Linked DNA regions of Homo sapiens: region 1 is linked to region 2. Evidence: fine-mapped expression QTL. A gene starts in region 2. The other region holds a variant in brackets. All regions are shown on one strand. Distances are between the middles of the regions.

Region 1 (4,396 bases), 29 kb before region 2:
ATCTTTTTTTGTCTTAAAATCTTTTTTCTGAAATTAATGTATGTATGTGAATTCTTTGTATTAAGATCTGCCTGGTATATGTTTTTCTATCTCTTATCTTCTACTGTTTTGCCTGTATGTTTTCAGATTCTTGTATATGTCATACAGCTAGATTTTTCTTTTCATTTCAGTCTGACAAACTCTATCTTTTAATTGGTAAATGTCATACATTTATGTTTATTGTGATTCTTGATATAGTTGGATTTGTTTATATATCTTTTTTGTTTATATTTGCCTTGCTTTTTCTGAGCTACTATTTTTATAGCCCCAACGTTTTTGCATTTTTTTTTTTTTTTGAGACGGAGTCTCGCTCTGTCGCCCAGGCTGGAGTGCAGTGGCGTGATCTCGGCTCACTGCAAGCTCTGCCTCCCGGGTTCATGCCATTCTCCTGCCTCAGCCTCCCAAGTAGCTGGGACTACAGGCGCCCGCCACCATGTCTGGCTAATTTTTTGTATTTTTAGTAGAGACGGGGTTTCACCGTGTTAGCCAGGATGGTCTCGATCTCCTGACCTCGTGATCTGCCCGTCTCAGCCTCCCAAAGTGCTGGGATTACAGGCGTGAGCCACGGCGCTGGCTGTTTCTGCATTTTTAAAAAACTGACTTTATGGTTAGATTTTTTAAATTCCATTTTTCCTCCACTGAATTGGAATTCATAGCTCTGTATTTATTCCTTTTTTTTTTAACAACTGTCCCTGCATTTTATAAGTGTCTAACTTAACAAAATGTAAAGGCAAACATATCTTAACTTTCCTTTGAAACGAAGTAATGATCTTAGAATAATTTTAATTACATTGACCCTCCCCCAAATGCCTACTTGCTATTGTTATTGGAGGCATTAGTTCAAAACTTCACAAATCGGACCTTATTTTTCTAGACTGATGTTTGGACTGACAAGCTTGTTCACCATTTTATTCACTCACCATTCTATTTTGTACTTCAGACCATTCTTTTATGATAATTTCCTTTTTTTAAGCTCTGACTTAACAAAGCACTTATATTCCAGGTTTGGTTCTAAGTGCTTTATTTTATATTAGTTCATTTAATCCTCATAACAATTCCATGAATACAATTATTGTCAAAATTTTACAAGTGAGAAAAAAAACTGAAGCACAGAGGTGTTAACTCACTTGTCCAGTGTTCCACAGCTAGCAAATGGTGGAATAGGGATTCACACCTATGGAGTCTCCAAAGTGCATATTCTTAACTCCTGTGAAATACTATCTCTCAACTACAGTCACACATCACTTAATGATGGGATACATTCTGAGAAAGGTGAAATGTGTCCTTACGTGATTTCATCATTGTGCAAACCACAGACTGTACTTACACAAACCTAGATGGTATAGCCTACTACATATTTAGACTATATGGCATAGCCTTTTGCTCCTAGGCTACAAACCTGTATAGCATATTACTGTACTGAATAGGCAACTGTAATACGAGTATGTATTTGTATATCTAAACATAGAAAAGGTCCAGTAAAAATACAGTATTACAGGTTGCGTATCCCTAATCCTAAATCCTTAGGACAAGAAAATTTTGGTTTTGAATTTTTTTTTTATTTTGGAATATTTGCATGATACTTAGTGTTGAGCATCCCTAACCTGAAAATCCAAAGAAATGTTCCAAGGAACCTTTCCTTTGAGTATCATGTTGGCACTCAAAAAGTTTCAAATTTTGGAGTATTTTGGATTTTGGATTTTTGGATTAGCAATACTCAGCCAATATAATCTTATGGGACCACCATTGTATATGCGGTCTGTTATTGACCAAAACTTTGTCATGTAGTGCATGACTATATGTCATTTAGGAGTTT[T/C]GTGCATATCTCTGAGCTAAACTCTCAATTATCACTTATCTTTAAATGTCTCTATTTCACTCTTCTTAAAAGGTAGTCTGGGCAAGTACATAATTCTAGTTGACCATTATCTTTTGGCACTTGAAAGGTATTATTCCATTAACTTCTGGTTTCCATTGATGCTGATAATAAATCCACTGTCATTTTCACTGCTGTTCTTTTGCAAGTGATCTGCCCTTTCTAGCTGCTTGTAAGATCTTACAAATTCTGCAGGTTCTTTATACAATGTCATTATACATTTCTGTTTATGTATCCTGCTTTCATTATCTTGTGACTCCCAGATCTGTTAATTCATTTTTTTCATCATTTCTGCAAAAATCACAGCACTATTTATCTAAATGATACCTCTCATTAGAACACTTCTTACCAGTGGGAGGTAAAGGGCAGGGATTGACTAGCAAGGGGCATAAGGGAATTTTCTGAAGAGCAGTATATGGTTTTTTTTGACAGTTTGTGTTACACAGGTATATGCACTTGTAAAAATTTACCAAATATTGTACTTAAGATCTGTGCATTTTATTGTATGTACATTTTAAATACAAAAAAGCTATAGAACAATACTGAATACTAATGATGAACATACTAAAATGTTTAGTGGTGATGTCTACAACTTACTCTGAAATGCATAAAAAATAGGATTGATGGATGGTTAAGTGGATAGCTATATGATACAGTAAATATAACAAAATGTTCTAGAATTAATTGGTAAATGTAAAAGTTCACTGTGTAATTCTTTCAACTTTTCTGTATGTTTGAACAATTTCACAAAATATTAGGGGGCAGGGAGTATTGCCTCTACTTTTTTCCTTCTTTTCTTTCTTTCTGAGATTTCAATTAGTCATATGTGTGACTTTCTTATCCAAGCTTCCATCTCTTAATATTGTTTTCATATTTTTACTTCCTTGTCTCTCCTTAGTATACCCTGGGTAATTTTTAAAGATATCTTCTCATTTATTTTTTAAGAGACAAGGTCTCCCTCAGTCGCCCAAGCTGGAGCACAGTGGCATAATCATAGCACTCTGAAGCCTCAAACTCCTGGGCTCAAGTCATGCTCTGCTTTAGCCTTTTGAGTAGCTAGGACTACAGGCATACACTAACATGCCCAGCTAATTTTTAAACTTTTTTGTAGAGACAGGGTCTCACCATGTTGTCCAGGTTGGTCTTGAACTCCTAGCCTCAAGTGATCGTCTCACCTCGGCCTCCCAAAGTGCTGGGATTATAGGCATGAGCCACCTCAGTGGCTTCATTTATTAATTCTCTCTTCATCTGTATCAAATTTGCTCTTTAACCTTTCCACTGAGTTTTGTTATTCTAACAATTATATTTTATATTTCTAGAGCATCTCCCCATCTCCCAACTACCTTCCAACCTGTCTGTCCATTCCTGGTAATCTCTTGCTCATCTTTATAACATCCTTTACCTTTTAAAATATTCAGAACACAGAAATTCTATACTTTTCATATCTGTCAATTCCACTACCTACAGTCCTTGGAGTTACACATCTACTGAAGTTTATTTCTGCAGACACTCATAGCAGTTTGGCTTTTTGGTGTATTTTTCTCTGTGTGCTACAGCTTGAATAGCTTCTATTGCTATGTCTTCAAGGTCATCAATCTTTTCTTCTACATTAAATTTGCTTTAAGCTCCTACAGTGATTTAAATTTTTTTCAGATATTGCATTACATAAGTCTAAAAGCTGCATTTCATTGTTTTTCATATCTTCATTTTTTCTTATGTTCATATTTTCTTGTAAATTCTTAATTATATTAGTAATAGCTGTTTTAATGGTTTTTTTTGTGCTAATTCCATGATCTCTGTCATTTCTGATTCTATTGACTGATTTTTCTTCTGGTATGGATCATATTTTGTTGAATCTTCATGTGTCTAGTAATTTTTTATTGTATAGTTGTAACTGCTACATTGCTTAGTATCTTGATGTTGTGAAGTTGTTTCCTTCTTTTACACAGTGTTGAATCCTGTTTCGGCAGGTAGTTTTTTTTTTTTTTTTTTGAAACAGAAGTCATCAATGGTGACATGCTGGATGCCACAGATGGTGGCACTCTGCCTCATGTATGTCTTGACAGTGTGTGCAACTTCTCATCTCTCCAGAAGGTCGGGTGGGTCAGCAGGTCCACGATGTAGGTCCCCATTGTGTCAGACCCCTGCTGCCCGTGAGCTCGTCACAGATCCAGCTATGGCTGGGGCTCAGCAGGCTGCCTGAGTAGATGCAGGTGTCGCAGATCATCATCACTCCTGCGTAGTGCTTCGAGACTGGTTGCTTCACCTGCACACAAAGGCAGGTAGGAAATGCAGCATGTTCCCCACCACGTTCATCAGCTGCAGGCAGTTAACACAAGGCCATCACCATCCAAAAGGCATCCACTGATGTTGCTGTGTTCTTGCAAACCACAGTCTTCCCAATACCCTGATGGACTGTGTATTAGTCTATTCTCACACTGCTATAAAGAAATACCCGAGACTGGGTAATTTATTTATTTTCTC
Region 2 (4,396 bases):
TTTAAGTAGGGCTGAACTGTGTGTAACTGGTGAAATGTTCAAGTTAACAATCCTTACACACGAAATCTCTCACTTCACTGACTTAATTCATTATTTGCTGAATAAACAATAAACTTCCAGTCAGTAGTCAAGAGTTGGCAATCTAGCTGGTAGGACATAACATATAATCATGAAACAGCAAAAACAGTATTCAAAGATTAAATTAGCAATACCCCAAAATGTGTGTTAGAGTTAGCATAAAGAATTTCTGATGTAGTTTACCAAGAGCTAAACTAAAAAGTCCAGAATACAAAAAACAGGGATGCAATGATGTTAGTTTTTTTCACCATCCTTGAAATTCTCCCATTAACCACAGCTCTGAGTTTTCAACTGCTCTTTGTCCTTAAATCTTCAGATTCCCTCCTTTGAATGGGATAGGTAGAGCAGATTAGAAGAAATATATTCCGAGGCTCTCTAATAGTTTCTGGATGATTAACCTTCATGAAAATAACCTCACAGATAAGTAATTAGGATTTTTCAGCCCATTTCTATAAACTAAGTAAACTTTTTTTCTAGTGAACATAACTTGATATATTAGTGACTGTAGAAAGTCTTTCTACAGCAACAGGAATTATATCAAGGCTTTTGCAAATTCCTGGCAACTCCGGGCATGTTTAAGTTCTACTACTCATCTGTTCTGACTATATTTTCATCTGATGGAATAAGCAGTTCATCTCCTTTCCTAGAACTTTTAGTGCTCTACTGTCCCCCTCACTTTAGTTAAGGTCTGCCATGTCCTCCTCTCCGACAGTCCTTGACTTTCCCAATGGCATATTCATCTGCTCAAACAGATGTCACTGCAAAACAAAACAAACTTTTAACAAAAAGCAATGTTTGCATATTTGGGGCCTTTTGTATGACAATATTGCACGTTTCCTCAGAAAAATTCACGGAGATTCTTTAAGGTTGGGGGTTTAATCTATTGATATTTTCCTTAGGTAGACAAAGACAACCTCTAAGTGCGCTCAGTTAATCTTTAACCGCTACATCATCGTCACCCAGGCACTAAGACATAACTAGGGCATAATGAGTTTTATTTCCACCAGGGGCGCCTAGTAACTACCAGGTTCAACGCTCCCAGGTGGCCGACATGTGATGTGCTCTACTGTTTGGGCTGGGGATATTAGCTCAACAAACTCTGGCCACAAGGATCACGCGGATATTCTTGGGGATGCCTAGCGAAATGCGCTGTACCTAGGCCTCGAACTCTCGCCTGCTCTCCGGTGGGCGGTCTCGAACTCCAGCCTGCTCTCCGGCAGCCCACAGCAATGCGCCTGCCAAGACCTTAGGCTGCAAAACTCGCCACGGCCCAGAGCTCGCCTCCAAGTGCGCCCCGCACAGGGCAAGCTTTCGGCGAGGACTCGCGTCCCACCCATCTAGCCCTGGCCGCTGTCCCAACTCCCGCAGTTCACAGAGGCGGCGGCGGTGAGCGCAGCCGATGCCACATCCTCAGCGGCAAGCTGAAGAAACCTGTCTCCTCTCTGGGGCGACCAAACGATACGTCGATGCCGGAACCGACCCGACGCCGGAGCCGTCGGCTCCGTCCTTACCGTTGCTCTCCAGGTACACGCCCCCGTCAAAGGCGGCTCTGCGGCCCTCTCGCGAGAGAGTGCCCGTGGTACCTCCTTCCTCTCAGTTGTCTGTCTCTCCCCGCCCCCGGAGTGATTGCGCGGCTTCCTCCAGAGGGCGGGAACCTTGGACGTGGCGGGGCTGGGTCAGTCAGGGCGCTGGGCCCAGCCTCTCTGCAGGCTGGCCTTCCGCGCTGCCGTGAAGCCCCCGACAGGTCCCACGCCTGCCTAGGTAGACCGGCGCCAGCCCGAGTGACGCCTGGCGTGTGGCCGCGGGCAGGCGGCTCCGTGCGGCGGGGCGGGCGGGTGCCACACCTGTGCGGGCAAGGGCGGGGCGGGAAGGTGCGCAGGCGCGCTCGGGGCTGGTGGGCGGTGGCTCCTGGGAAGTTGCGCAGCCGAACTGGCCGGCTGGGCGCGCGCTCTTGCGGTGGCGTAATCTCTCAGCCTTTCTGTGTCTCCTTTCCTCCGCCTCAGTTTGGGGCGGGTCGGGGGAATGGCTGAGGAGATGGAGTCGTCGCTCGAGGCAAGCTTTTCGTCCAGCGGGGCAGTGTCAGGGGCCTCAGGGTTTTTGCCTCCTGCCCGCTCCCGCATCTTCAAGATAATCGTGATCGGCGACTCCAATGTGGGCAAGACATGCCTGACCTACCGCTTCTGCGCTGGCCGCTTCCCCGACCGCACCGAGGCCACGATAGGGGTGGATTTCCGAGAACGAGCGGTGGAGATTGATGGGGAGCGCATCAAGGTGAGCGGATGGGGAACTGTTGGGGAGGACAGGGTGACAGGTGTCCCAACCCCACCGTGGGCTGGTCGCTGGCCGTGTGCACGGTGTGTGTGCGCTCCATTTTTTTCTCACGCTGATGAGATTGGAGTTGGGGATTGGAAGGATTGCAATACTGCAAACTTCTAAGGCAGCGTTTCTCAGACTTCATTGTGCATGCGATTTACCTGGGGATCTTGTTTTTGAAAATGCAGGCTATGATTTAATAATCTCGCTGATGATGCAGGTGCAGCTAGTCCGTGGACCACACTTTGAGTTCAGGAGTGTAGGGCTTATCTACCGACCCATTTACTGTGTGTGTCGTGTGCTGGGAGTCAGTCAAATATGAACGGAGGAAAAACAGTGAAATTGCGCGAGAATGGAAAATTCATTTAATCAGTAATAGTTATTAAACATTCATTCGAGCAGTGCCTTAGATGTTGTGGAAGTAAAGCCTATTGCCTTTGAGGAAGTACTTAGGTATTCTCTTGCATACAGTTTTGCTGTAGTAGTTTCTTTATGATACTGATTTTAGAAAAATCTATTTTCCTGCAGAAACATTCTATATGTGATAGTTCCTACTCAGGTTGCCAAAAGCATTTCTCATGATGCCACCTCAGACACACGCCCAATTCTTTATTCCCTTTAAGTCGTTATTTTTGGTCCCTGGGACTGGGGACACTGAGTGACAGTAATAGTGGAGAAGGTAGTATAGGCCCCAGGGCAGGTTTGAAGTTCTGAGGGGTTGGAATCTAACAGTGGAATGAGGATCAATGACAAGGCTTAGGCCTCTTGATGGTATAAACCTTAGACACACCTTCATAGCAAGCCACCACTAAATGCCACCTGTTGATGCCACTCCTTAAAACATAGGTGGAACCACCTTGCCTTATACTACTGCTTTAAATCAGCGATCGTCTTTATCTCAGTCTCTTGGTGGGGATGGGGAGTGGTGGGAGAACAGGCTTGCTTTAGACGTTCCTACCCTCGTATCTTAGAGGCAAGAACAATTTATTTTTCAGTTCCCTAATCATCGCCCCCCACCCCAACGGGTTATACTGCTAATGATGGTAGAGGTGAAGTAAGCTGGGTTAAAAGAAATTAACCTTTCTTTGGTGCTTCTGTCTTTTAATTTTTCACATTAGTATTTCATGTCCCATATGAGCTCTCAGTGGTGGTTTTGGAGTTGCTTTGTATTAGGGAATTTAGAAAGATTTGTATACTTGCAGAAGAAAAGATAGAATAAAAGGCTAAACATTTTTCACCAGAATTAGGTTTGGCCCAGAAGCCTTTGGGGTGAAAAATAATGGAGCTTCTGAAGTTCCAAGGGAGTTAAGATTGGGAGAAGCAGGAATCTGGGAAGTACGTGGGCTTTGGAGCCCAACTAACCTGGATTCATATCTGAACCTACGAAAGGGTAGGGATGGGCTGCGTGTCCTTACTAGGGTGACCAACTTTGCCCAAGACTGTCCAGGTTTTAAAACTGGGTCTCACATCCCGGGGACCCCCTGTATTGGGCACACCAAAATAGTTGGTCACCCTGGACCTTAGGCAGATTCTTTAACCTCTCAGAGTCTGTATTTTTCTTCCGAAAAACTGGGATCATGATACCTTATCAGGCTGCTGTGAGGATCAGATGAGGACATATATGAAGCACCTGGTTCATAGTTGGTGCCTTTAAAAAGATTCTTTGTCTTTCCTGGTGGCTTAACATTATTTTTCCTGTTTGCCACCATTAGTTCTGCAGTTGTACACCCAAAGTTGAAAGCAGAGATAGTGGAGGGCATAGGTAGACAGCTAAGGGGAGAGAAATTTAAAAAACAAAACAAAAACAAAAACGGAAGTAGGAAATTCTTTCAAAAGTGGAGAGAATGAGGGTGGGGGAGGAGTTGGGATTTGAGGGCCCTTTATCTGTTCCTGGGTTGCCATTTATACTTAAAGATAACAGATGAATCAGGTGCAAATTTAAGAGATAATAGTATTGAAAAAATATAAAGCATGTGCAGTGTATAAAGTCAATTACCTAACTACT

The links. PIP is the estimated chance that this variant, and not a neighbour inherited with it, causes the effect.
Region 1: its variant is the best candidate, but not a certain one, in a credible set for the expression of RAB33B in whole blood (TOPMed, PIP 0.62).

The regions. Positions count from the first base shown.
Region 1 is chr4:139,422,939-139,427,334 of GRCh38, forward strand. It overlaps the pseudogene LOC100421868. Among named protein-coding and RNA genes, the nearest start is that of RAB33B-AS1, 29 kb to the right of the region's middle. The variant T/C (reference allele first, on the strand shown) is at 1,856.
Region 2 is chr4:139,452,096-139,456,491 of GRCh38, forward strand. It overlaps RAB33B (RAB33B, member RAS oncogene family), which reads left to right and starts at 2,026. Exons shown (of 2, transcript NM_031296.3): 1 at 2,026-2,349. The coding sequence starts at 2,101. It overlaps RAB33B-AS1 (RAB33B antisense RNA 1), which reads right to left and starts at 1,946. Exons shown (of 1, transcript NR_159964.1): 1 at 1-1,946. RefSeq lists enhancers at 1,314-1,653, 2,274-2,323 and a silencer at 1,724-2,053.